4 linked regions of the Homo sapiens genome follow. The protein of the gene in region 1 interacts with the protein of each later gene in a biochemical or structural test. Each region holds a gene or a part of one and is shown on either strand. Other genes may lie near its edges.

Region 1 (7,588 bases):
TCCTGCAGCCGGGACCTGGGCATCGGTGTGCTTTCATGTTCCTAACTGATTTTGAGGGGAGCCCAATCGATAACCTGTCTGCGAGTCATGCTCATCACACTGTAGTTTTCACACACGTCACACGGAGACCCTGTTCGTATGCACATTTGGGTGCTTGAGCAGGGTTGCGCCCAAGATTCTGTGGTTCTACGGAGCCCTGAGTGGTGCCCTGGGCAGCTTTCCTCTGGGGTTGGTCAACTTTGATCACTGCACCTAACGAGAAAGGGACCATGAAATCTAATCAGCAAATACAGACAAGCAAGGGGCCATTTCCCACAATCATTTCCACGGAAACACCACGTCGGATACGTAAGTCTGATTGCAGGACAGGGACTGTGCTTCAGAGATGCAGCTTTCGCAGCTGGACGAATGACCCGGAATCTCCCCAAATGCCATTTGTAAGCACACCAAATGAGGTTTATTTCAGGGCTTTCTGAATTTATTTCAGTTGAATACACACACTCCTGTGTTTGATTTCCTTTATTATCAATACGACTTATTTCCAAATGACTGACATGCCAGTGGGAAAATTTTCCATTTCGACTCATTGGAATTGGACATCGTGAAACAGGCAAGTCGGTCTGTCTGTTTCCGGCGTTATGTGGGTTCCAGCAAGAGCACAAGTCCCAGGGCGCCTGAGGTCCATTCAGAAACCAATGTAAAAACGGTGAGCCAGGGTAAGAAAGAAGAGCACCGTTCCTATCTTCTAAATGCATTCCAGTTTCCACTATTCAAGGTGGCGAGAATGATCCATGGATGTGCCACATGAGCAAAATTTCACCTTCTCGTGCCGCCCAACAACTGACGAATGAAACACACCCCAAGAGAAAATAGGAAACCGAGTCCCCTGCAATAACCTCACACTCAAACCTACACGTCAGTAGGTCATATTCAGAAATACACAGTGAATGTCATCTACCATGAACACAAACACACAGACAGTCTCTCCAGAGGTTCGGAAGACTCACGACCCCAAAACTTGATGTTTCCCATGTGTGGGCTCATCCTGAGATGCAGCCATCACTATCCAGTTGTCCCTGTTGTAGAGACAGAAACTTGGACTCCTCATTACTTTATGTAGGATTGACGGTGTTCGTGTTTGTGTGTGTGTGTGTGTTTGCGTGCGCGCTTGTGGGTGTATTTGTGCGTGTGTGTGTGTGCGTTCACCCCTACGTGTGGGTCGGCACTTCCACTGAGATCACTGGCACACAAGCAGAGCCCTCTTGCTGTGTTTGTTCTTCCCTTTGGATCTCCTGGTCCTCCCTTGCAGAGAAGCGAGGGTGCCAGTGTTCACGGACTCCTGATCTGTCCGGGTCGTCGAAGAGAGGTTTAGCAGGGAGCTTTGCTGTTCAGGATGATGGTTTTTCATCCCACACTTGTATTTCGATTGATGAATCACAAGTACGTTGGGAGGCAGGGTACCTTCGACTTTTCTGACGTTGAACTCAGGCTTCGTTTTGTTTTGCTCTTGGGGGAATTTCCAGTGGTCTAAGGTGCTTTCCTGAGTGGCTCTTTCCACCAAGCGCTCGTCCAACTCGGGTGCCTGGAGGCAGGGGTGGTCTCTCTTGAGCTCTCCTTGCGTTGCTCGCCTGTCTGTGTCTTCAGCGCCGAGGGCTCTTGGTTCCCTGCCTCTTGACACACTCTCACTGTGTCTTTCCCATTCACTCTTCTGGATGTAAAAGAGGACATAGGCCTGTTGACTCAGGACAGAAGTGATGCTACAGGCAGTGACCTTGGCATCATCCATTTTATACCACTGGCCTTCTTGAGCTTTGACATAAGAGAAGTAATGTCCGTCGTGACAACTCCACCCAGCGTGGACCAGCACAGCATAGAGGACATAGACAAGAGGTCCTGTGTTCTGCTGAGACATGTATGGCTGCATGTCAAGGCACTCAGGATATTGCACATTCTTGGCAAGTTTGTTGCCTGTGACATCGGAGAATCTCTTCAAGACAAGGATGAGGACCTTGGCAGAAGTGTGTAAAGTTAACGTCTTGGAGGCCGGCGCCCTCTGGAGACAAAGACCGCAATGATAGGCATTCTCTCCATTGAGTTCTTCGGGCTTCACCAACTGTTCCAAAGCTTGCTTGACACTCTGAGCTGCCTGGATATCCAGGGCGATGTCCAGGTAAGGGTCAAAAGTGTCTGAAATCCCGTGGCAGTGGAGACACTTGATTTGAGATCTCCAGCAGCCTCCAAATATTTGGTGGATGAGGGTGGTGTCCTTAGAGTGATGATCTACCTGCTTGTGGCCGGGAAGGCATGCCTTTTTCATGGCATCCACAGTGAACATGAGAAATTCATGGGCATCTTCCTGCTTGCCTCTATGGAAGCCAGCAGCCAATGCCTGTGAGGGCTGGATGACATGACCAGGACTGTGGAGGGCCCATGTGATGTGAGCTTGCATAGTACAGAGCATGCAGCACTTGGGACGCTGACATGTTTGAGAGTGCTCCCGGGACAGCATGTAGTTGGCAAGGGGCGGTGTGTATGTCAGGCACTGCAGGGAAGCGTTCTCGTAGCAGGTATTTCCCATATTCTGGAGCCCAGCCCCCACCGCAGCAGGTCTCCTGCTACTCAGAGGAAGCTTCTTCCTGGGAGCAAGCTGTCTTGCCACAGGAGCCAAATCATCACAGAGGTCGACACGGGCCTCAGATGAGAGTGGTGACTTCTCAGGGAGAGAAGTCCGCTGGATTTCAGCAAAAGCTGCATCTGGCCGAGAAGATGTGAGTTTTGAAAAGTGGTTGAACTGCCACTCACCTCCCAAGTAGAGTGAGTCGTCCTCCATGTCGCCCGCAACAAGGATCACAAGGTTTTTCTGCTGGGACTGCAGGTTGCAGCAAGACGCTATCTCTTCCAAGAGAGTCTTCAAATGACGAGCTCTCTGGCCGCATCAGCCCTTATATAACTCACCCCCACCAACCGCGAACACCCCACCCACCCATCAGGTGTGCGATAAACCAATCAAATATCAGCACTCAATTAAGGAATGAGTCACAGGGTGTGTCCCCTTGCATCGCTGGGAATTCAACAGACACAGCCCACATCATGACTTCTAGAACACCTGAATCAAATTACTCCTCAGGGTGATAGGCACATATAATATGAGTGTAACCGGGTTGGGACAGTGGCCACACAGTTGCCTTATTTTAGGTAAAAGAATGTCAGGGAAGAAATCTTTACCTATGAAACCGTGTGTGTATCTCTCTGTGTGTGTGTGTGTGTGTGTGTGTTTGTGTGTGTGTGTGTGTGCTTGTGCTGGGATGAACTTCCAAGTATGTACTTTTGGCAGCTACCGTCATCCTCTCATCGACGGAAGGACAAGAAGTCTGAAGTGCGCTTTCTGACCTGAGAATAGTCAATGAAGTATAGTATTTAGCACAGCGTATTTTCTTCCTTAATAATAAAGGAGATATCCGTGGCATCAAACAGACCTTCCAGGGATAACCTTTCCACGTTCAGCCTATTGACTCTCTATCCGAGTGAAATTACTGGCCAGTGGAGAACAAGACAAGTCTTTGCATGAAATGCTCTTGTGGAAGCTAGGCTGCCAAATAATAAAGCATCAAATGGTAGAAACATGCACTGAAGTTTGAAGAGTTACTCAGTGCACAAAGTAGGCTGTGAAAGACTTTGGGGAAATCATGCAATCACCGAGAGACTAATTGATGACATTCCCCAAATTTATGTGTGCCAGAAAAGAGAGATGGTCCTGACATTGTATAGTGAGTGGTTTCGGACGTGCGGCGGCAGTTTAAGAAAACTTGAAACAAAAAACTTGAGAAATCCAAAGGTATCCCAACTATAAGCTTTTGTTTATTAAAGAACTGATGAAAATAAAAACAACGTATCTCACAGCATGGGTGATACTATTTCCATACTTACGTGATAATGGATCAACATTTCATAGAGATGAAATAAAAAGTTCTAATTTTGACAAAAGCAAACAAGGAAAATTATACCGTAGAAAAGCCCGGGTGACGGGAGTGAGGCCCTGTCTGAAGAAGAAAACATCGGAGACGTTTAAAAGCAGTGAGTGAAACAGAGGGTAGCATAACCTTTTTAATACTGGCTCTTGTTTCACTGGGAAATGGCAAAAATAAACCGTGTATCTCCTGGATTCTCGCATCGGTTGTTCATGCTCTGAGATGTTCCCTCCATTTCCAGTTATGCATTGTATGGTGGAATTGCAGTTAGCACCTTTGATGCAAAAATTGTAATGCTGACGAAAGTGGACATGTTCCCTGAACTAAGAGGGACAGCATTTGGGTGTGTCTTCAGGCTCTCTGGCTTACCAGGAATGAAGATCCTGGCTCTAGGGATTTTCCCAAAATGTCTTAGACAGTAAGGAACAGGGCAGAATTGAGGCCCGGCGCCAAGGCCTCTGGGTGTAAAGAAACAGCCCTGGCTTCATGGCCCATGAAATTAGGATGATTTTAAGGATGGTGATGAAATGAGTGGGCTGTGACCTTTGGCCCTGTTTCTTTCCTTTGTCTTTTCATGGGCCAGGTGTGCTTCATCAGAAGGCTTCCTATGCCCGATGTAAAGTGTCCTGGGGGAAGAAAGGAGCACTGCTTAGAAAGATGCTCCACAGGGAGAAAGGAGCCGCCATTTTCAGAAGAATGTTCCCCAGAAACATGAGCAATCCAGATGCCGTGGCTTCACACAGGGTGTTGGATGGTCTTATCTCTTTAAGCGGGACCTAGGAATTGTTGTCCTTTAATGCTCATAACTGCTTTTGAGGTGAGCCGAATTGATGTCCTGCCTGCGTGTCATGCTCATTGCACTTTAATTCACACACATGTCACACACAAACACTCTGAATAAGCACATTTTTGTTCTTGAGCAATATTTCACCCAAGATTCTGTGGTTCTACCGAGCCCTGAGTTCTGTCCTGGACATCTCAACTCTTTGGTAGGTCAACTTTGATCTTTGTACCTAATGATAAATGGACTATGAAATCTTATCAGCAAATATACAAAAGTAAGGGGCCATTCTCCACAATCGTTTCTCTCTGGTAGGTCATCTTTGATAACTGTACCTAACAAGAAATGAATATGTGATGATTCCTAATCAAAAAATTTCTTGATTTTTTGCCATTTTAATTAATTCTGTTAATGTTTAAATAGAGTTTTAAACCCGAGATTTGGCATGAAGTCTAATCGTCAAATACACAAAAGGAAGGGTCCATTCTTCAAAATCTTTTCCACTGAAAGACCACCTCTGATATACAAGTCTCGTTGCATTACAGGGATCCTGCTTCCAAGATGCAGCTTTCACAGCTTGATGATTGACCCAGAATCTCCTCTAATGCCATTTTTTTACACCCAAAATGAGATTTATTTCAGGGCTTCCGGATTTTATTTTAGCTGAATACATCCACTCTTCTGTTTCCATTTCTTTCAAACTCTTTTAAATAATTATCTTGCTGCATCAGCCCTTATATAACTACTGTCCACCCACCGAGACCATTACATTTATCCATCAATTACCCTATTTACTAATAATATATCAGGATTCAATTAAGTTTTTTGTCTTAGGTTGTATCCTCTTGCATTCCTCAGAGAATTTAATGGACACTGCTTACACTGTGACTATGGAAGAGTTGAAGCAGATTTACTTGTCAGTATTATGAGCAAATATGTTAGGTGTGGAACCGGGCTAGGATAGTAGCTAAACATTTGCCTTATTTCATATATAACAATGCTATTTAACAATTGTGTACATATTAAACAGTTTGTGTGTATGAGAGAAATATTCATGGCATTTTTAATCCAAGGGTTTCTTGTATATGACATCATTTTTAAAAAAGTCAAAATCAGAAAAGCTTCACAAATTGGAAGATATCTAAGCTAAAACCTTTTGTTTCTTAAAGGAACGATGAAGATAATTGCAATGTAACACACGGCATGTGTGATAATGTTTTAATACATATCTAAAAATGCCTTAAAATTCAATAGAAGTAAAATAACAACTTCTAAAACTTGACAAAAGGAAACAACAAAAATTACACACTGGAAAAGCCTGGCTGACTGGAGTGAAATCCTGTCTCAAGAAGGAACAGACAAACACACAAACAAGCAAAGGATTCTAAAAGCAGGGAATCAAACAGATACTTGTACACCATTCTTCCTACTAGCAATCTTCATAGTAGGAAAAGGCAAAAACAACCCAAATGTGTGGTGAATTACTTCATCAGTTTTTTAGGATCTGCAATACTGCCTCAATTTTCAGTTACTCATTGTGGGGAGAACCTGCAGTTACCACATTTGTTCCAAAATTTTATGGTGATGAAGGTAAACCTGTCCGGCATTCTCAGAGGGACAGAATTCTGGTGTTTCTCCAGGTTCCTTGGCTTATCAGGAATGAAGATCCAAGCTGTATAGACGTTTTTCAAAAGTATGTACGTACGTATGTATGTATGTATGCATGTATGTACGTATGTACGTATTTCCTCTTTTTAAATTTAAAAAATACAGGATACATGTGCAGAACGAGCAGGCTTGTTATATAGGTATCCTCTGCTATGGTGGTTCGTTGCACCTATTGACTTATCCTGTAAGTTTCCTTCCCTCACCCCCAGCCCCCAACGGGCTGTGTTGTGTGTTGTTCCTCTCACTGTGTCCTTGTTTCCTCAGTGTTCAACTTTCACTTATTAGTGAGAACATGCGGTATTTGTTTTTTTTGTTGTTGTTGTTCCTGTGTTAGTTTGCTCAGTATGATGGCTTCACCTTCATCCATGTGCCTGCAAAAGACATGATCTCATTCCTTTTTATGACTGCATAGTATTTTTTGGTGTATACGTACCACATTTTCTTTATCCATTCTAGCACTGAAGGGCATTTGGGTTGGTTTCATGTCTTTCCTATTGTATATAGTGCTGCAATAAACATACGTGTGCATGTGTCTTTATAGTGGAATGATTTATATTCCTTTGGGTACATAGCCAGTAATGCGATTGCTGGGTCAAATGGTATTTCTGGTTCTAGATCCTTGAGGAATCGCCATACTGTCTTCCACAATGGTTGAACTAATTTACAGTTTCACCAACAGTGTAAAAACCTTCCTCTTTCTTCTCAGCCTCACCAGCATCTATTGTTTCTTAATTTTTTAATAATCGCCATTCTGACGGGTGTGAGATGGTATCTCACTGTAATTTTGATTTTCATTTCTCTGATGATCAGTGTTGTTGAGCTTTTTAAAAATATATTTGTTGGTTGCATAAATGTCTTCTTTTGATAAGTTTCTGTTCATATCTTTTGCTCACTTTTGATGGGGTTGTTTGTTTTTTTGCTTGTAAATATGTTTAAGTTCCTTGTCAACTTTGGTTATTAGACCTTTGTCAGATGGGCAGATTGCAACAATTTTCTCCCATTCTGTAGGTTGCTTTTTCATGCTGATGATAGTTTCTTTGCTGTGCAGAAGGTCTTTAGTTTAATTAGATCCAATTTGTCAATTTTGGCTTTTGTTGCAATTGCTTTTGGCATTTTTGTCATGAAGTCTTTGCCCATGCCTATGTCCTGAATGGTATTGCTTAAATTTTCT
Region 2 (7,058 bases), on another chromosome or scaffold:
AAGGCCATTCATCCTGAAAGAATCGGGTTGCCTGGCTACGCCATACCTATAAGCACTGAGGCTGCATCTCTCAGCCCCACGACCTCAGCATGTGCTTCCTTCACTTGTCCCTGATGCCAGGCCATTCATAGAAGTTTCTCCCCGGGTGCCTTCTTTGTCCCTCCTCCTACCTCTGAGATCCCACTTTATCATCGTTCACTCCCACTGTGTTATACCTCCACTGCTGCAACTGAATGGTCTATCTAAAGCATGTAAACACCTTTTAGCTCAACCAAAACCAGCTATGGTAACACAATTTTTAGGCCATGTGTGCAGCTGAGATGCAAGTATTATCTCAGAAAAGAAATGTTAGAAACCAGTGAAAATTACAGGTCACTGTAAATAGAAAGAAAATATAGGTATTTTAACGTGATTATCACCATCTTTTGTAAGTATATTTCCATAGTTATTTTTCTGATTACTCAGAATTCTAATATAGATGATGAAAGAATCTTAAGAACATGTTTCAAACATGTCATAACAATATGCCAAGAACATACAGGTATTCACACACACACACACACAAAGGAAAAAGAAGATATGGGTGTCTATCAAAAGGGAAAAATTAAAAAAGATGATGGCAATTATACAAATATGAACATAGTACTGACATGTTGCACAAAGAAAATTATAGAGTAGTAGAACCAATGGAAGCAGCATGTTCCAAAAGACAGTAATGTTTGTTTTTTCCTCCTTAAATGTTATAAGCTACTACTTTATATCTATTTTTTCCCTCATGGCAGATATCAAAATCATTTCAAGTTTCACTGCTCAAATGCAGTGCAATAGATCACATGCAACAGTAAAAACAGAAAAACCCAGGTCATTTCCAAATTGACAGAAAGAATTTATTTAGAAGACTGAACTTTAAAAATCATTTAAAGCTCAGAATTTTACAATGCAAAAAGTTGATAATACAATTGACTTTTCCTAAGCTATTTAGCAAACTTTCGGTAATATAGTTCAGGGGAAAACCCAAGAAAATATCTTGGAAATGTCTGAGAAGGGAAAGAAGAATGCATTAAAATGTACTGCATTTATATTATGCTATTTCTGTTAAAATTATAGTTTCTCATGATTATTACTCAATAAAGATAACATGTACACAAACACATAAATCAGGTTAAAAAGTAGGGTAACTTGTTTCAAGGTTAAACTAGAAGTGTATTTTAAAATAATTGTGTAGTACATTATAGCAAAATCTCATTTCTGAGTTTCTGGAAAATATATTTTATAAACTCAAATAGCCAATATAAATCAGAAATGAATTAGATTTAGGTGTACATTATATAATTATTATTTGTAACTAAATTACACATTTCCTTAACAAGTTAAAAATTATAGACCAAAATTTAAAATTTTATGTTTATTTTAGTGAAAACAAAATTGTACAGGTATTTGATATATAAATGTTCACACATGAAATACATTCCTTGTGTGACATTAAGAAGTCTTTCAGTGTAAGTTACACCACCATATTTGGAAATAAGTCCATGAAATGTAATTTTTAAATACCTGTAAGATGATTTGCAACTTTAGAATATCTGGTATGTAGTGTGAAAATACTGGTTGGAGTCATTATTCTTGAGTTCTATATATTAATTCTCAGAAGACTCCTAAACAAAGAAGTTGGAATTTGGTTCACAGTTTAAAAAGTTTGAACATATTTTCTTATGATAACCTGTTACCCACAGCAGAAGTTATCCATAAACAAAAATAATCTGGTATTTACTAATTTTATACAATCAATTGTAAAACTGCCTTGGGTCTGAAGCTTTCACCAACTGGGACTTAATGTGAACCATAAGCAGGAAGAGTGAACAATGATAAATTAACATAAAAGATAGCAGTATCAGGAAAAGAAGAGGACAGAGAGTTAACACTCAGTACTAACATATATAATTAAATAAAGTTTCATTGTTTTTTACATTGTCCAAATGATCTAGTAACCTAAATCATGGAATTTCTGATCTAGCAATGGTTGTTGTCAAATTCAGTAACTAAAAATTCAACCCAGTGTAGAAAAGACACTTCTCTGTTAATTTAATATTTGTAGCTTACTATTTTTTTAATAAATGATTTATTCAAATAAATTCTAGCCATGATGTGCTGCTTCCTATTTGCTGGCAATTATTTCTGGATTATATAAACATGTTAATTACCAGCAAGTAAATCTTGTTTTAAAAGGCAAATGATAAGTGTGAACAATTATCAAAATGGAGGATTCCCACTTGTGTCTCTGGCTTAAAGTCTAATTAGTGACTTGTAGTGATCCAATATTTTTATGTAAATATAAAATCTAATGATTTGCCTTCTTAAATTTATAAGGTATATGAGATTATAGATAGCTTTATAAATACAAATTTTGTTCAGAAAACTGGATCTTATTTTAGAAGACATGCTCTTAACACAAATGTATTTTATGAATTATCTTAAGCTTAAAGACATACAATTATTCACTTTTATTTTTAAAGAAAAAAGTATTATAATGCATTGCAAAATATGTGCTACTGAAAATGCATCAATTTTTATTTCCCTAGCCTTACCTCACACTATAACATAGAATCAGTTTTATAAAGGCAAAAATTTGATTTACTGTGAGATTAGTAACATGGTTTTAAAGTCAAAAGATTTATAGAAGTAGTATTTCCAATTCAAACAGAATTTTGCCAGGTTTTAATTTTTCTACAAAGCACTTAAGTAAATAATTTTGTGAAAAGTTTTGCTTTAAGATGTTTTAAAGGGTTTCAAGTATTCTACAGATAGAGATTTTGGGGAGAACACCAAATTCTTTCCAAAAAGACAGCTATTTCAAGTTTTCTTTTACTCCATTGTAGAAAGTTTTAAAGACTTTTTTTTCTCCAAAATCTAATTTTCACCTGAAATAATTGTATTCAAGGGTTTCTCAGCAGGTAAAGTATACATTCTTACAAGGTTTCAAATTTCAGATTTCCAATAATGCATTTAAACTGAGCACTCCTCTTTTTGTGTATGTATCTACTATCTGCAGTTCTATTATTTACACTAAATTTTAGTCTTTTTAGCTCCTCTGAAATACGTTAGTGAACCCTCAGCAGTTACTAACCACTTAATAATTGTGAGCCCGCCAGCCCCTTCAAGTAGATCGTTAACCATAAGAGTGCCTGACAATTTCCAAACCATATCCTCTGTCTAAAAGGAAAAGATAGGGCTTTGTGAGGCAGAAAGGAAGCGAAGGAAAACAAAACAAATGTAGCTCATGCTGAAAGTGAAAAGTGCTTGGATAGATTAGTATTTTCTTTTCTGCAAGGCATCCTGCCAAACTTTTTCTTTATTTTTTTAAGAGAAGAGTTATTTTTTGGTCTGATTTTTCAGTTTCTTGGAAAGTATTGGTATTTACCACCCCCATTGGCCGCTCATAATTATTGTTGGTTGTTTTGTGTTTTTCCCATCCGTCCACGTCACACAGTGAGGATGCCCCCCGCTTCACCCTGTCAAAACCCCAACTCTGGGCGACCCTGGGTTTGGAAACTCCGCCGACTCCCGACGACACGTCCCACTCTCTCCCACTAATGCCGCTTATTTTAGTCGCAGGATCCCCCTACTACAGTTTCAGCGAAAGCCGGAAATTTTCATTTAACTCTCCCCCCCACCCCCACCCCCACCGCGCCCTTCTAGCCCCCGACTCGTAGAAGGGAGCTAGGGAGCCCGGAGCTCGGAGCACTGCCGGGACTCGGCCGCCTCATTTCTCTCCGGAAGGCTTTAATTTGCACACTTTCTTGCCACTGCGCCACGAGCCCCCAGCCCCGCCGGGGGGTGGGTCTCCGGCAGAGTTGGCTTCGCGGGTCCCTGCCCCCACCCCGCACGGTCGCCCCAGCTGCCTCCCCGGCTGGGGCCCCCAGCGCCGGCCGGAGCCCAGCGGCCCCCGTCCGCCCCCAGCGAGCGGCGCGGGCGGCGCCCTCCGCCGTCCCTCCGCCCTCCGCCGCTGTGCCCACCCCCTCGCCGGAGAGAGTGCTGGTAACTCCTTCCCCAGAGTCTGATTACCTGCTCCGCGAGGCCGCGGACACGTGCGGAGAGCCGACTGACACTCGCAGCCCCCTCGGGAGGCCCGACGCGACTGGGCCCCTCAGGTGAGGAGCTGTGCGCTCGGGTGGGTGGGCTGCGGGGTGGGGGGTCCCGGGGGAGATCTGGGGGATTGGCCGGGGTCCGAGGCAGAACTGTGGGTGGGGTAAGTGGAGGGTGGCGGGGGGTGGGGGGGACCTGTGTTTCCTTGGAATCGGCTTTGGTTAACCCCTTACGAACTGAGACGGGATTGGTTATGGGGGCCAGTTTTGGGGAGCTAGAGGATTCTCCTTATCTGATGAGAGGGGGAGATCCCAGCCTAGGGACACCCGCGACACCGAGATCCTGCTTCCACGTATCCGTACGCACACACACCCACACGGAACACGCCTCATACAGTTTCTCCAAACGGAACTGGAACTCTACTCGGACACTCACATAATAATTCACATTTAGGGTTTAAAATGCACTGCCTCTAGGGACTCCATGCTGGAGAATGTGCTTGCATTTCCCCCTCGAAAACTCCCTCTCCAGCTCGCTGAGGTGTGGGTGTGGGCTCCACCTTCCCCTCCACGAGATAAATGTTAACGCAGGCTTCCTGCGGGCGTGTTATACACAGAAAAGTGCACGCAGCCGGCCAGTGCCCAGGCTTGGAGCCCCGCGAAGACGCACGTTTGCTGTAGTTTCCAAGTTTACTTTTATAATTTAAAATATTGGAGTTAAACACACGCCCCGCAGTGAGCAGCCCTGGTCCCCGCAGCGCGCCCGTCCGTGTGCATATGGGCGCATCTGCGTGTGCGCACACGCGGGAGTCGCGGTCCCCGGTGTGGCCTCTTGTCGCTGTGCTGGTGGCGACCCTTGTGGTGCTTGGCAGGCTTCGGGAGAGGCGCATGAAGGATTTCATTGAGTGTGAAGACAGAGAGCAGAGACAGAAAGCAGAAGGAGGCGGCTGCAGCCTTTGTAGTCGCGGAGGAATGCGGAAATGTTGAAGCACTATGTCAAACTTTTTTTGAAATGGGGTCAAGTCACATTCAGCCAGCGTGGGAAAGCAACAACAACAACAAAAAAAAGTGGAGGAGAGGGGGGGAAAAGGCATTGCTGCTCCCGTTTCTCTCCGCCGAAGCCGACCGTCTGGGGGGCGAGTGGGGGGAGAGCCAGGGCAGTGCGGGGCCCGGCGGGGGCAGCAGGCGCAGTTCCCTGCGGGGGTGGGACGTCCCCGACGCTTCCTTCGCTGCGGAGCCCGGGGCTAGACTCGAGCGGGAGGGGGTTGGGGGGATGCAGGACAGGCGGGTTGGGCGGCCGGCGGCGGCTCCCCGGCTACCTGTGTGGCCCTCGACCTGGCTCAGACCCCCGGGCAGTCCCTGGGGGCTCTTTCCTCGGCTTTTAAGGAAAGTTCTGAATGTAGTGAGTGCCAGAAGCTCTGCTCTCGCCGCGGTCCGCTCCACCCGCTCATCGTGGGGGTCGCGCCGTTTGTTTAATTCCTGGCAAAAGGCGAGCGGGCCAGCGGTTGCGAGGCAGGTAATTCCGAGGTGCCCCGGGAATTCCGGACATGCGGCCGTCGTGGTGAAAGTCCTGCCGAGGCCGCGGCGGCCCTGGAGGAGGGAGGCCCCCTAGGTCCCAGATAGCTGCTGAATGGGGAGGGAAAGTTAGGGTACCCTACTCTGGCGCTTTGTTGTGCAGAGGGCTCCGGGGGCGTCCGGCTGCAGACTGGACCGGGCCTTTAGCCGGAGGGGGAATGGGGCAGCCACCTCTGCTACCTACAGCGGGGAGGTCCTGGGAATGGGAAAAGGTTCGCGAGTCCGGGCCCCGAGGACAGAGACCTTCTCTCTCACCCCTGGAGGCGCAGGATTTAACCCCCCACCCCCCACCCTTTGAAAGGGAGGTTGAGTTTTGCTCAGGTCGAAATCAGTTTAAAACTTAAGGACGAGGCGCGATTATGCTATCCCCTTCCTGAAGTTATTCTTTAAGGAGACGACAAGCGAAATTGTGGCGAACACCCCTTTCTCCCACCCTTGGGATCCCGTGGGGGACGGTGTCTCCCCTCCCCCAGGACCGCTCGCTCGCCCACCCCCGATAAGCCCCAACCCTCCCCGACCAGATGGCTGGTCTTCCCAAGGTTTCCACCAGGGAGGTCCTCCCAGCCGGAGAGAGAATTCCGTTTCCAACCGAGACTCCTTTACCCCAAAAAGACCATTTGTGTATGCGAGTCGTTTTTAAATGTCTCCTCGTAGAAAAACTGAAAGTAGAAAGAAAGGAAGCAATTTCTGAGCAGATGTCTGACCACCCCTTCTCGCACACTCCCAGCATCGGGTTACAGGGTCCTGGGAGCCCCCACCCACATTCTGCGGCCCCACACGGATGGACCCACAGTCCTTCCGCTCCAGCTTGTGCGCGACCCCTGAACGCCCTCCGGCACCCCTGGACCCCGTCTCCCTGCACGTCCGGGCCTCAGGAGGCGGGGAGGGTAGCGGCGCAACACAATGATATAGGGATAAATATTAAGCCGTGACATTGACGTGCCCGGCGCCTCCCCTCCCCCGCGCTCCCGGCACACTCTGGGCTGCTCGGCACGCCCCCTCCCGTTCCACTGCGTCCCGCGCCGCTCGCTCATCCCCGAGGGGCCCCTGCAACCTCTCCGCGCGAAGACGGCTTCAGCCCTGCAGGGAAAGAAAAGTAACTTCGCTTTTCTCGGAGGAACCAGGAAGGATTAAGCGGCTTGGGAGAGGGCAGGAGCGCGCGGAGGGTAGCGATGGAGGCTTCGTAAAGGAGGAGGAGGGGAGTCTGGAGGAACCCCGAGGAAGGCTTCTGGGCTGTCTGATTGCACTTTCTTCTTATCCTCCCGTCTCCTCCTTTAGGTGCAATGATTCTGGACTGAGACGCGCTTGGGCAGAGGCTATGTAATCGTGTCTGTGTTGAGGACTTCGCTTCGAGGAGGGAAGAGGAGGGATCGGCTCGCTCCTCCGGCGGCGGCGGCGGCG
Region 3 (7,024 bases), on another chromosome or scaffold:
AAAAAAAACTTAAAATGGGACAAAAACAACCTACAATCCTTTTCCTCATCCGCACTTCTGACTGTACATCAGGCCAGCCATGCAGAAATGAGCAAGAGGGTGCAAGACTACTCTTGGGGTACCAGGGAGAACAACCTAACTCCAAGGAGCCTCCTCAGACACCCTCCACTTCTGGGCCATTCCTTAGCAACAGAAGCAGAAGATGAAACCACTTTCCATAACTGCAGCTTGGAAGTCTCTTTTCTGAAAACTCTCCCTGACAGAGTATCTGGGATATGTTTTGGAGAATAGCTCTTAGGGCTGCATTACACCGACGATCGGCAAATGGTCAAACATTGAAAGATGATTCATTGCCATTTAAAGGAGCCTTACCTGCATTCCGTATCCTCTCTTTGTACTGCTGATCTAGTTTTTTCATTCTCTTCTGATATTCCTGTAATGTACCTGATTTTGAACATTTGAAAAATAAAATTATTGTGAATATAAATCTGCTCTACATTTTGCTTCCTAAAATTATTATCTAGCATCAACACTGACTGTTTCAGTAACACCAAAGGAAGACACACCTCAGCAAAGTTAACTCTGGTTCTTAACCAAGGCACACAGCAGAAACCACTAGGGGCCCATTCAAAGTCTACCCAACCCAGTGGATCAAGGGTCTGTAGTGAGTGAGGGGGAGTGGAAAATTGCCAATATCTCCACACTATTCTGATCAGTTGCTGCAACAGTCTGAATCAACGGGCCTTCCTTTACTGGAAAAGGTTCATTCTCCTTCAGTAAGGTCTAGGTCAACGCTCTCCAGTAGAACCTTCTGCAATGGTGTGTTTTATATTTGCAATGTCCAACATGGCAGGCACTAACCATTTGTGGCTATTTTAGCACTTGAAATGTAGCTAGTGGAACCGAAGAACTAAATTATTAATTAAATTTAAACAGCCACATGTGGCTAGTGACAGCATTAAACAATTCAGGTATAGATTCTAACCAAATCGCTATTCATTTCATTGCTCTTCCCACAAAACAGTTAATTATGAGGGGCCCATCTTGTGGGGGGAAGTGTTTCCTGATTATAATGCCTGACCATGGGCTAGTCCAAGGGCGTGGATCACTCACCAGCAATAAAAGCACATAGTAGAAACAGCAGTATCAGGCTGGGCATGGTGGCTCATGCCTGTGATCCCAGCACTTTGAGAGGCTGAGGTGGGCGGATCACCTGAGTTCAGGAGTTCAAGACCAGCCTGGCCAATGTGGTGAAACCCCGTTTCTATTAAAAATACAAAAATTAGCCGGGCCTGGTGGCAGGCGTCTGTAATCCCAGCTACTCGGGAGGCTGACGCAGGAGAATCGCTTGAACCCAGGAGGTGAAGGTTGCAGTGAGCTGAGATCGCGCCACTGCCCTCCACCTGGGTGACAAAAGCGGAACTCAGCCTCGAAAAAAAAAAAAAGAAAAGCAAAAACAGTTTCACTGACAAGGGGACTCCACAATATGAAACCGAAGAGCTCACTGCCACAGCTAACTGTCCCCAGGACCTTGCAGTGTGCACACTGCTGTGCTAGACGCTCCTCATGCATAATCACATCTACTCTTACTTGCTTCATTTTGCAGATCAGAAAACAGATTAAACAAGAGAAACTGGCATGTCCAAGGTCACATTACTAGAAGCAGGGAAACTGGGATTCCAATCCCTCACAAAACTCCAGAGCCTGCACTCTTTTTTTTTTTTTTGAGACTGAGTCTCGCTTTGTCGCCCATGCTGGAGTGCAGTGGCACGATCTTGGCTCACTGCAAGTTCCGCCTCCAGGTTCACGCTATTCTCCTGCCTCAGCCTCCAGAGTAGCTGGGACTACAGGTGCCCACTACAACGCCCAGCTAATTTTTTGCATTTTTCAGTAGAGACGGGGTTTCACCATGTTAGCCAAGATTGTCTCGATCTCCTGACCTCGTGATCCACCCGCCTCGGCCTCGCAAAGTGCTGGGATTACAGGTGTGAGCCACCGCGCCTGGCCTCACAGCCTGCACTCTTAACTCTGATGCTGCACTGCCTTTAGCAGCTAGCAGCATTTGACAAAATACAATCTACTTTTAATGTAACAAGCAAAAAGGAGAAAACACAGTGTGAATAATCCACAAGGTCATTAACATTTGGTTTAGAAAAAACAGTAAAAACTTTATTCTTTGATAACAATGTCTCTCCTAAAAATCTCTAGCTTTAGGCACAGTGGCGTTCAATTCGTGCTCCATTGAAAGTCCCAAGTGAGATTTCATTTGAAGAAAGAATCTCACACATACTGGAAATAAATGTTTCAAAATCAAGGAGCTGGAAAATCACCACTTTACTGACAGCAAAAGATAGCAAAATGTACTGGATAGCTAAGATCAGCCAGACCGTGTTTTAAATAACTCCCACAGAGAAGTGAAATACACAGATTTCAAGGGTTTGTAATATTAAGAAGCATATTTAGAAATGCAGGATTCAATCACACACCAACCTTCTTGCAGTTGTTGCAACTGCCTCTTGAGAGAAGCCAGTTTGTCCTGATACATCCTATAAAAAAAAAAAAGTCACACTAACAGATAAAAACATTCAATACTCAATTCCAAAATAACCTACTCACAGAAATTAGCTGGGCTGTTATGGGAAGGTCATTAATGTCCTTCAGGGAAGAGAGGAAAGTAAAGTCTGCTTGCTGGCTTAAAATGCACCAGCAGCCACAGGGATCAGAAAGGAACAAGAAAGAACCCTGTGTTCCTCAATCTTATTCTAATTTTGTAGATTCTCCCATGTTATCCCATCTTTACAGAATCCGTCTAAAACTTGCAACGATAGCAGATTTTAATAAATGACAATTATAAACAGGCAAGCACACACACAATGTAGAAATGGCATTAAACACAACTCTTACATCAACTCTACAATTAGATTGTAAGTTACAGGAGAGTAAGATTATGCCTTCAGCATGTTTTTCTATGCAGATATGCTTAGCAGTGTAAGAACTAAGTCAATAAACCTTCATGTCATTTTTTAAAGCACTACTCTTTTAGGATCAGAGAAATAATAGTAATTCAGAAAGAAAAGTTAAAAGGCAGCATTTACTGGCAGCCCCAGCTGGATGGGAATACACAGCACACACGAAGCAAAAGCATTTGGCATGTTAGTTTTTTCCTCTCACACCTAATGGATTATAGGCAGTCATAACTTCAGCAAGTTGGTTTGAAGGTGGGTTCCACATATAAATCACATTTCAGCAAGTATTTTTGCTTCTACCTGAAAAACACCCTCAATTTAACAGTGATAAAAACAAGATTTGTGATCTGAAAGAACACTGTCCAACATATAACAAGCACAATAACCTTTTGGTATATGTGCTGCTGAAGTGAGCACATGGGCGTGATAACCTTTTTAGCGCTCAAATAAGGGCTGCAAATACAACCCAACCCTCTGTAAGGGGAGGAGAGTAGGCAGAATTTGAGACTCACACACATCTCACTCTTTCAGGGCAAATTCTGATGCACTTTAGATTTCCCCTTGAATTACACAAGGCATTCCATTTTAACCGAAATTTTTTCTGTATCATCAAATACTAAGGGAGGCCAGGCAAGGTGGCTCACGCCTGTAATCCCAGCACTTTAGGAGGCCGAGGCGGGTGGATCACTTGAGGTCAGGAGTTCGAGACCAACCTGGCCAACATGGTGAAACCCTGTCTCTACTTAAAAAAAAAAAATTAGCCAGACGTGGTGGTGGGCGCCTGTAATCCCAGCTACTCGTGAGGCTGAGGCAGAAGAATAGCTTGAACCCAGGGGCTGGAGGTTGCAGTGAGCCGAGATCATGCCACTGCACTCCAGCCTGGGCGACAGAGCAAGACCCTGTCTCTTAAAAAAAAAAAAAAAAAGGCTGGGCACATTGGCTTATTCTTGTAATCCTAGCACTCCAGGAGGCCGAAACAGGAGGAATGCTTGAGCTCAGGCATTCAAGACCAGCCTGGGCAACACAGTGAGACCTAGTTTCTACTAAAAATTTTAAAAATCAGCTGGGCGTGGTGGCACGTGCCTGTTGTCCCAGCTACTTGGAAGGCTGAGGTGGGAGGATCAATGGATTGAGCCCCAGAGGTTGAGACTGCAGTGAGCTGCTATCATGCCACTGCACTCCAGCCCAGGCAACAAAACAAGATACTGTCTCAAAAAAAAGTGGCTACTGTCTCAAAAAAAAGTGGCCTGGCACGATGGCTCAGGCCTGTAATCTCAACACGATGGGAGGCTGAAGCAAGCAGATCATCTGAGGTCAGGAGTTCAAGACCAGCCTGGCCAACATGGTGAAACCCCGTCTCTACTAAAAATACAACAACAAAAAAATCAGCCAGGCGTAGTGGCGCATGCCTGTAGTCCCAGCTACTCAGGAGGCTTAGCCATGACAATCACTCGAACTCAGGAGGTGGAGGTTGCAGTGAGACGAGATCATGCCATTGCACTCCAGCCTGGGTGACAGAGTGAGACTCTGTTTCAAAAAAAAAAAAAGTAATCCATCTTTATTCAGCACTGGTTAGACCTAGCTGAATTACCCCTTTGAGTTCCAAAGCACAAAAACAATGTGAGAATCCAGAGGATGGCCACAAAACATTTGCAAAAAGGACCTAAAGGGAAATGAATGTGGATCATCCTGTTAAAAGGTAAAGAACTTTAAAAACCTAACACATTCAACAAATATACATTAAATATACTTTATACCGTTTTCCATCTGGGTGTACGCTAAAAGTGAGTGAGGTTTTCGTTTCTCTGAATCTGTTCGGCTGTGGCTCTGTCTGAAGACAATGAGAAGGTTTGGGTGAGAGCAGGTGCAAACGTGGACAGAGCACTGGCCTGAGAGTCAGCATGTGGCCAGGCAGGGTCGCTCACGCCTGTAATCCCAGCACTTTGGGAGACCAAAGCAGGTGGATCACCTGAGGTCAAGAGTTTTGACACCAGCCTGGCCAACATGGAGAAACCCCGTCTCTATTAAAAATACGAAAATTATTAGCCGGGCATGGTGGCATGTGCCTGTAGTCCTTGCTACTCGGGAGGCTGAGGCAGGAGAATTGCTTGAGCCCAGGAGGCAGAGGTTGCAGTGAGCCGAGATCAGGCCACTGCACTCCAGCCTGGGCAACAAAGCGACACTCCATCTCCACACAAAAAAAATAAATAAATACAAAAATTAGCCGGGCATGGTGGTGCATGTCTATAATCCCAGCTACTTGGGAGGCTGAGGCAGGAGAATCACTTGAACCTGGGAGGTGGAGGTTGTGGTGAGCCAAGATTGCACCACTGCACTCCAGCCTGGGCAACCGAGCAAGACTCCATCTCAAAAAAAAAAATTAAACAAATAAAAATAAATAAATAAATAAATAAGAGTCAGCAGCCTGCTTTTCAATCGTGGCTTCTCTGAGCTCTCCAGGCCTCCGGCACCTTGTCTAGCACATTAGTGCAGTGAGTTTACACTCACCTGAGAACCCAATTGCTTCAAGACAACAATTACCCTCTCTGTGCATTGGTTTGCCCATTAAAAAAGAAAAGAAAAAAAAAGGTCCGGGCGCAGTGGCTCGCGCCTGTAATCCCAGCACTTTGGAAGGCCAAGGTGGGCGGATCACGAGCTCAGGAGTTCGAGACCAGCCTGGCCAACATGGTGAAACCCTGTCTCTACTAAAAATACAAAAATTAGCTGAGCGTGGTGGCGTGCACCTGTAATCCCAGCTACTCAGGAGGCTGAGGCAGGAGAATCATTTGAATCCGGAAGGCGGTGGTTGCAGTGAGGAGATCCTGCCACTGCACTCCAGTCTGGACGAAAGAGCAAGGCTCTGTCTCAAGGAAAAAAAAGAGTAAGTAGTAAAAGGTCCTCTCCTGTTGTACGGCCTCATTCCCTCCCCTGGGTCCATTGCCCTCAAGATTCTTTCTAGAGAGTACTCAACAAAGTCTTATAACGGGAAGACTGATTAAATGTAATTAATTTAAAGTGGAGAAATTGTAAACATACATGGTCTTTGGAAGCGCTATGGTCAAACTCATACACACAAGGTTACTACAGATTAAGTATCCCTTATCTGAAATGCTTGGGATCAGAAGTGTTTTGGATTTTTTCAAATTTTAGATTATTTGCAATATACTTACCAGCTGAGCATCCCACATCCAAAAATCTGAAATCTGAAATAGTGCAATGAGCATTTCCTTTGAGCATCATGCTGGCACTCAGGAAGTTTTAGATTTTGGAGCATCTGAGATTTCAGATTTGGGATGCTCAATCTATATAAAGATGTTGTCAATTCTATGTTCCAAAAAGACATAGGCATATCATACTCACTGTTCCTTCATTTCTACATAGTCTTCTTCATCATGCTTTGCCAGGTCAGTTTCACTAGCATCCTCAGTGTCTGAATAAAGTTAGGAAATAGGGGCTAGTTAAAATCATAATTCACGGAGTTGGCGTCACCTGACACAGAGTATGCACTCAATAAACTCCCGTAAAATCAATTTCTATTCAAGGCAGGCTTGCACAAAGCCATCAATGAAAAACATTACATACAGTTAGTAGGCCATCCCTATCTGCAAACACGAAACCTGTGGACACAAAAGGCCAATGCAAAGAATTTGAGTATCCTCAGGTTGTAGTATCCATGAAGTCCTGGAACCAGTCCCCCATAGATACCGAGGGACAGCCGTACTTCAGAAAAGAAAAGGCCATTTCCAACTTACAGTCAGATTTATGCAAAAAGCTTGCCTTTACCTGAAATGCAGCCACAGAATAGGGTGTCTCAGGCACAGGCAGTTATGGTGAAGGCTGCTACTTCTGCAGAAACAACAATGCTGGCAACTCAAGAAAGGAGATGCAGGCGTAAGACTGGACACTGCAGGCAGTCAAGCCTTACTCGCTGCTCCAGAAAAAAACTAGTATGTACATTCTCTTCTGATACATACCCAGTTGGAACCCTTCGCACATTTTACATCAGGATACACGGTTGTCCCTCAGTATCCGTGGGGGAGTGGTTACTGCACCTCCCG
Region 4 (7,024 bases), on another chromosome or scaffold:
GAGACAGAGTCTCACTCTTTCGCCCAGGTTGGAGTGCAATGGCATGATCTTAGCTCACTGCAACCTCCGCCTCCCAGGTTCAAGCAGTTCTCCTGCCTCAGCCTCCTGAGTAGCTGGGATTACAAGTGTCCGCCAGTACACTTGGCTAATTTTTGTATTTTTAGTAGAGATGGGGTTTACCATGTTGGCCAGGCTGGTCTTGAACTCCCGACCTCAGGTGATCCGCCAGCCTCGGCTTCCCAAAGTGCTGGGATTACAGGCAGGAGCCACTGTGTCCAGCCTATTTACTTAGTTATTTAAAAGTAAAACATTTTTTAAAAAGGTAAGCAGTTTTCCAACACTGTCACTCCACAAGTGTTTTAAGTGACAGATCATTGCAGTGTGTCTCCCGATACCCAGGCCAGTCTGCTGGGGCACCATGCTGAGAACTGCTGTGAACCTGGGGCTTCAACCCCACTAGAAGGGGACCTTCTTTTTCTTCGGAGTCTGAAATGAAGGGTGCCAGGCAGCTCTTGGGGAAGAGTTTCTGCTTTGTCACCTTACTCCTGTCCCCTAATGCTGTCCCAGCCTTCAGGAATGGAGCTTTTGATCTGAGTCTGCAACCTGATTCCTGAAAGCTATTGATCAAGCACCCTGCCAGCGTCTCCGTCTCTGGTGCCTCTCCCTCACAGGCTCTCTATCTCCCACGTCAAGATGCAAAAGCCTAAAACCTCTGCCCAGTGTCTTGGTCAAAAAATCGAGCTGGAGCTAGGCACTCCCCCTGTCATAGCCCATAGCGGACACGGGGCTTAACAGGCCAAGGGCACTCCTGCCTGACAAACCCAGGATCCTGTCTTCTCAAAGCTTGTCTTAGAATGCAGCTGGTCGTCTGGAAATTGAGAGACAGTACAGAATAAACCCGTCTTTCCCCCACCTCCGCCTGCAGAGAAAAGAAATGCTGGGAACGCAGTACGGAGCGCCATGAAGTCCGAGGAACAGAAGATCAAAGACGCCAGGAAAGGTCCCCTGGTACCTTTTCCAAACCAAAAATCTGAAGCAGCAGAACCTCCAAAAACTCCACCCTCATCTTGTGATTCCACCAATGCAGCCATCGCCAAGCAAGCCCTGAAAAAGCCCATCAAGGGCAAACAGGCCCCCCGAAAAAAGTAAGTGCCCCATTCAGTCCTCTTCCTAACGTGGAGCAGTTTGGTTCCTCTGATGCCAGGGAAGCCTGCTCAGGTGCCCATGGGGGTTCAGTGGCCACCTCTCAGCCTCTCTCATGTCAAAGACTCAGATGCCCCGAGTCATCAGCAGGGATGCCACTGTTTGTCAGTTTCTGGATCTGGCATGGGTCCAGAGTTCAAGAGCCTCTCCTTCCTCCCCTCCTTACCCACCCCAGCATAAGCAGCCTTTGTTTTTTAAATTTATTTTTTTTGTTTGTCTTTTTTGGTGATTGGTGTTTTGTGTTTTTTTTTTTTTTTTTTTGAGACAGAGTCTCTTGTTGCCCAGGCTGGAGTGCAATAGTGCGATCTCGGCTCACTGCAAACACCACCTCCTGGGTTCAAGCGATTCCCCTGCCTCAGCCTCCTGAGTAACTGGGATTACAGGTGCATGCCACCATGTCCCGCTTATTTTTGTATTTTTATTAGAGACAGGGTTTCACCATGTTGGTCAGGCTGGTCTCAAACTCCTGACCTCGTGATCTGCCTGCCTCAGCCTCCCAAAGTCCTGGGATTACAGGCGTGAACCACCATGCCCGACTGTTGTGTTTTTTGAGACAGGGTCTTATTCTGTCATCCAGGCTGGAGTGCAGTAGCTCACTGCAGCCTCAACCTCTCAGGACCAAGTGATCCTCCTACTTCAGCCTCCCGAGTAGTTGGGACCATAGGTGTGCACCACCATGCCTGGCTAATTTCTTTCCTTTTTTTAGAGACGGGGTTTTGCTGTGTTGCCTGAGTTGGTCTTGAACTCCTGGGCTCAAGTGATCCTCCCGCCTCAGCCTCCCAGAGTGTTGGCATTACAGGCATGAGGCACTGCGCCCAGCCAGCAGCCCGTCTTTGAAACTCCTCTGAGGCCCTCATGGGCAGGTGACTGAGTGACCTGCAGGCTCCAGTGGACAAAGGTGTTTAAGTGACATCATCTCCAAGGAGCTGTGTGCCTCCTCGGTGTGTGCCTTCTAAGGAGCTGTGTGCCTCCAGGTTTTCAGTCCTGATATTTATTTTCTCCTCTTCCCCTCTTACCCAGAGCTCAAGGAAAAACGCAACAGAATCGCAAACTTACGGATTTCTACCCTGTCCGAAGGAGCTCCAGGAAGAGCAAAGCCGAGCTGCAGGTAGTCACGTGCTTTAAATTCCAGTTTGTGGAGGGGCAGGGTGGCCCACCAAGCAGTGCTTGGCGTGTGCGTATGTGTGTGTCCTCAGCCTTGTTTTCGTCATCTTGGAGCAAGTCTCTTGGCCCCTCTGGACTTGGTTTTCTCCTGGATCTATCGGGGATCCTCACAAAGCTTGTCCTGCCTTTCTGCTGGGGTCACTGCAGGGCTTGGTTAAGACACTTGTGTGAAGGAACCTTGTGACTTGTAGCATGTGGCAGGGAAAGCCAGGTGTGACTCTGAAGGTGGATTTTCCAGGACTTGTTGGCAGAGCCATTGGGAGCCTGGGACTGTGGGAAAGGCTGCCTGTTCTTTCAGAGGCTTTTCTTGTCTGTTTTCTGGAAGTTTCCATGTTGTGGCCCAGGGTGTTAAACAGCAGTGGCTTGGGGCCACTTGCTGGTTGCGTAGCCTTGGGCCAGTCACTTACCCTGTCCATGCCTTGGCTCTCCAGTCTGTAAAATGGTACAATAATGTAGTACCTGCTAGAGCTGTGGTGAGCATTCAATAAATGTGGTCATGCAAGAGGAACCCTTAGAACCATGCTTGGCACTCAGTAAGTGCCAGCTAACTGTTACTATCGCCACCTCTGCTTCCTCAGTGTTGTCACTCCCGTCTGCTCTTTCCCACGCTGCTGCCATACTAGGAGCCTGCAGACCAGTGAGCAGCACCGGCTGGAAGGCCAGCTGGCCTATGCGGGCCTCCGCTGCCATGTTTGCAGAGGGTTGAGCTATGCGGCAGGCAGTCAATATTTGCTGCAGTGAGGTGTGGTTATTGCCTTTCTGTGAAGGAAACGCAGGGCATGGCAGGTCCCTCTGCTCTTCCCCCTCAGGGACACCTGGGGCTGCCCCTCTGCTCTCCCTCACCCCCACAGTGACCACCGGGTTGGGAGAGGTGCTCAGGATTGCATCCTACACAGAGAGGTGGGGACCCCGGCTTTGGCAGTTTCAGCATTTCAGCCCTCATGCGGACTCCTTCAGCGTTCTTGATGTTAAATGCGCAGATACACAGTGGTCTAGTATTCTTTCTCTTTTTCTTTTAATTGATGAAGCTTCATTTAAAAAAAATTTTTAAAAAGGTCCATTTTCTTCCCCACAGAGAGCAGCTTTGGTTTTATTGCCTGAAAAAGGCAATGTCTTTCAGCCAAGAATGAGCTGTTTAAAACATTTGTCAGCAGTGGGAGGCTGTGCTAGGTCACTTTTTTTTTTTTTTTTTTTTGAGATGGAGTTTTGCTCTTGTTGCCCAGGCTGGAGTGCAATGGCGTGATCTCGACTCACCGCAACCTCCATCTCTTGGGTTCAAGTGATTCTCCTGTCTCAGCCTCCTGAGTAGCTGGGACTACAGGCATTCGCCACCACGCCCAGCTAATTTTGTATTTTTTTTTTTTAGTGGAGATTGGATTTGTCCATGTTGGTCAGGCTGGTCTCGAACTCTCGACCTCGGGTGATCCGCCCACCTCAGCCTCCCAAAGTGCTGGGATTACAGACGTGAGCCACCGTGCTCGGCCTGCTAGGTCACTCTTAAAGACAGCACTGGGCCAGGTGCAGTGGCTCACACCTGTAATCCTAGCACTTTGGGAGGCCCAGGTGAGCGGATCATCTGAGGTCAGGAGTTCGAGACCAGCCTGGCCAACATGGTGAAACCTTGTCTCTACTAAAATACAAAAATTAGCCAGGCATGATGGCAGGTGCCTGTAATCCCAGCTACTTGGGAGGCTGAGATGGGAGAATCACTTGAACCCAGGAGACGGTAGTTGCAGTGAGCCGAGATCGCGCCACCGCACTCCATCTTGGGTGGCTGAGCAAGACTCCGTCTCAAAAAAAAAAAAAGACAGCACTGCAGATGGTGAGGTGGTGCCAGACCACAGAATCCCAGACACCTCCCAGCCAGGGTTGGAGCTGCGGTGTGCCCACACACAGGGCCTCTGCTGAGCGTCCACCAAGGGCTGCTGTGGACTTTAGGGTGGGGGGAGCCGAGTTGGCCTTGTTAATAAGAAGCAAGAGTTTGTGCTGGGCAGAGTGAAGGCTGCGATGGGACAGGATGCAGGTCTGCTAAATCTTGCAGCAGATGAGCAGAAGGGAAGAACACACTTGCTTCCCTAAAGCACAGTCTGCAAACACAAGAAAGCTCGCCCTGTTCCTGGACCGGGAGCCGTGCTTTGCCCCCCACTGTTTGTGTTGGCTCTGCTGAGTGCAGCCATGCAAGCTGTTGCTGGCCAGGGCAGGGAGGCCATAGCTGGCCGGGATGACGTGGCTAGAGCTGGTCAGGGTGGAATATTTTCTGACTGCACAGATAAAGCCCAAGAACGGGACAGCTGGGGCTCATCTGAAGGGTGGGGTCAGTCCTGACTTGACTGCCATGCTGGGCCCAGGCTGTGGATCCAGGAGGGTGGGGCATAATACAGCCTGTTGTTGGCCAGATGGTCTGGGGTGAAACTGCAATTCAGAGCCTCTTATATACCTCCACTGAGGCTGAAGACAGCAGCCAGGGCGGGCCTAGCGCCAGGGCGTGGGTCCTGGGCAACAGGGTGGGATCAGGGCTGCTGGATTTGGACACAAGGTGGGCCTTGGAGAGATGCCCTATCCACCAAGTGCTTCACTGCAGGGGCCCCTTGGCCGGCCAGCCTGGCTGTGGGTGGGGTGGCAGCCAGCAGCGGGGCAGGGACCATGCCTCTTGGCAATGGCTGGGCTTCCTCATGCCCAGCTCGGCCCCAGGGCCAGATGTGCAAGCAGCCTGCTGATTCCGCTTGGGAAGGTCCCCTCCTTCCTGGTCACAGGCGCTTCTCAACTGCCCTAGTTCCAACCTTGTATCCCTCCCACTCCATCTCCTTCTAGGCCCATTTGTGGGTTCCTGCCAGAAGTCCCTTTAGAAAACCCAGGGCTGGTTGTTTGCAGGCCCCAAATTCCAGGCCTTTGGGAGACTCAGCCTCCCTGGCTTTGTGCCGGGGCATCTGGCCTGGTCCCAGCTTCCCTCTGCGCATCTCCTACCTGCCGTGTTTGGTCCCAGCAGAAAAACCCCCATTCCACTACCCCGGTCTTTCCATGATCACTCCCGTTTACATGGGCCCCCGTACTTCTCAGCACTCTCTGCACACTTGCAATGAATGGGTCACACAGCAAGGTGGTTATGTGTGTGATGGTGGTGGTGTTGCTTTGAGGGCCTGCTGTGTGCACTGTTCTAGACCAGGAGATTCCACAGTAAACTAGACCAGCCCGTAGGGCTTGTTTTCCAATGGGGAGTAATTAACAACAAAAAAGACACCAGCTACTTGGGAGGCTGAGGTGGGAGGATTACTTGAGAACAGAAGTTCAGTACCAACCTGGGCAACATTGTGAGACCCCATCTTTTGTGGGTTTTTTGTTGTTTTGTTTTTTTCGAGACAGAGTCTCACACTGTCACCTAGGCTGGAGTGCAATGGCGCGATCTTGGCTCACTGCAGCCTCCACCTCCCGGGTTCAAGTGATTCTCCTGCCTCAGTCTCCTGAGTACCTGGGATTACAGGCGCCCACCACCATGCCCAGCTGATTTTGTATTTTTAGTAGAGACAGGGTTTCACTGCGTTGGCCAGGCTGGTCTCAAAATGCCTGACCTCATGATCCACTTGCCTCGGCCTCCCAAAGTGCTGGGATTACAGGCGTGAGCCACTGAGCCCGGCCGTGAGACCCCATCTTAAAAAATAATTAAAAAGGCCTCCCAAGTAGCTGGGACTACAGGCGCCTGCCACCACGCCCGGCTAATTTTTGGTGTTTTTAGTAGAGACGGGGTTTCACCGTGTTAGCCAGGATGGTCTCGATCTCCTGACCTTGTGATCCGCCCGCCTCGGCCTCCCAAAGTGCTGGGATTACAGGCGTGAGCCACCGTGCCCAGCCAAAAAGTTTTTAAAATGTTTTTATTTTGCAATTTTTTTTTTTTTGAGACAGAGTCTCACTCTGTAGCCCGCGCTGGAGTGCAGGTGTGCGATCTCGGCTCACTGCAACCTCCACCTCCCAGGTTCAAGCAATTCTCCTGCCTCAACCTCCCAAGTAGCTGGGATTATAGGCGCTTGCCACCACGCCCAGCTAATTTTTGTGTTTTTAGTAGAGACAGAGTTTCACCATGTTGGTCAGGCTGGCCTCAAACTCCTGACCTTGTGATCCGCCCACCTTGGCCTCCCAAAGTGCTAGGATTACAGATGTGAGCCACCGCGCCTGGCCAATAATTTTAATTTTATAGAAAAGTTGCAAAGATAATACAGAGAGTTCCCCAGACTCCTTACCCATCTTCTCTCACTTAAGTTACTCTGGTGAATTTGTCACAGCTAAGTAACAACCAACATTGGTATATTACTGTTGGTTGAAGTTTTTTTTTTGTTTTTTGTTTTTTGTTTTGAGACAAGGTCTCACTCTGTTGCCCAGGCTGGAGTACAGTGGCATGATTATGGCTTACTAACCTCCGCCTCCTGGCCTGAGACTCCCAAGTAGCTTGGATTACAAGTGTGCACCACTATGCCCGGCTGATTTTTGTATTTTTAGTAGAGACAGGGTTTCGTCATGTTGGCCAGGCTGGTCTCGAACTCCTGACCTCAGGTGATCCACCTGCCTTGGCCTCCCAAACTGCTGGGATTACAGGCATGAGCCACTGTACCTGACCAAGTTTTGTTGTTGTTTTTTTTAAATCTATTCCACCAATATATATCTTTCT

The links.
Region 2: the proteins of USP17L2 (region 1) and CDK6 form a complex in vitro, tested with the Homo sapiens proteins (3 studies listed by BioGRID, with this or other methods).
Region 3: the proteins of USP17L2 (region 1) and SUDS3 form a complex in vitro, tested with the Homo sapiens proteins (one study listed by BioGRID).
Region 4: the proteins of USP17L2 (region 1) and KMT5A form a complex in vitro, tested with the Homo sapiens proteins (one study listed by BioGRID).

What each region holds. Positions count from the first base shown.
Region 1 is NC_000008.11:12,135,931-12,143,518, forward strand, and holds USP17L2 (ubiquitin carboxyl-terminal hydrolase 17), read right to left. Parts: upstream 2,920-7,588; 5' UTR 2,831-2,919; coding exon 1,238-2,830; 3' UTR 505-1,237; downstream 1-504. UniProt on the Homo sapiens protein: Deubiquitinating enzyme that removes conjugated ubiquitin from specific proteins to regulate different cellular processes.
Region 2 is NC_000007.14:92,833,568-92,840,625, reverse strand, and holds the start of CDK6 (cyclin-dependent kinase 6), read left to right. Parts: upstream 1-4,052; 5' UTR 4,053-4,148; intron 4,149-6,666; exon of another isoform or gene 6,667-6,823; intron 6,824-6,935; 5' UTR 6,936-7,058. UniProt on the Homo sapiens protein: Serine/threonine-protein kinase involved in the control of the cell cycle and differentiation; promotes G1/S transition. Phosphorylates pRB/RB1 and NPM1.
Region 3 is NC_000012.12:118,379,534-118,386,557, reverse strand, and holds part of SUDS3 (sin3 histone deacetylase corepressor complex component SDS3), read right to left. Parts: intron 6,397-7,024; coding exon 6,327-6,396; intron 5,589-6,326; exon of another isoform or gene 4,870-5,588; coding exon of another isoform or gene 4,724-4,869; intron 4,699-4,723; exon of another isoform or gene 3,174-4,698; intron 2,547-3,173; coding exon 2,491-2,546; intron 445-2,490; coding exon 373-444; intron 1-372.
Region 4 is NC_000012.12:123,394,122-123,401,145, forward strand, and holds part of KMT5A (N-lysine methyltransferase KMT5A), read left to right. Parts: intron 1-925; coding exon 926-1,145; intron 1,146-2,223; coding exon 2,224-2,311; intron 2,312-7,024. UniProt on the Homo sapiens protein: Protein-lysine N-methyltransferase that monomethylates both histones and non-histone proteins. Specifically monomethylates 'Lys-20' of histone H4 (H4K20me1).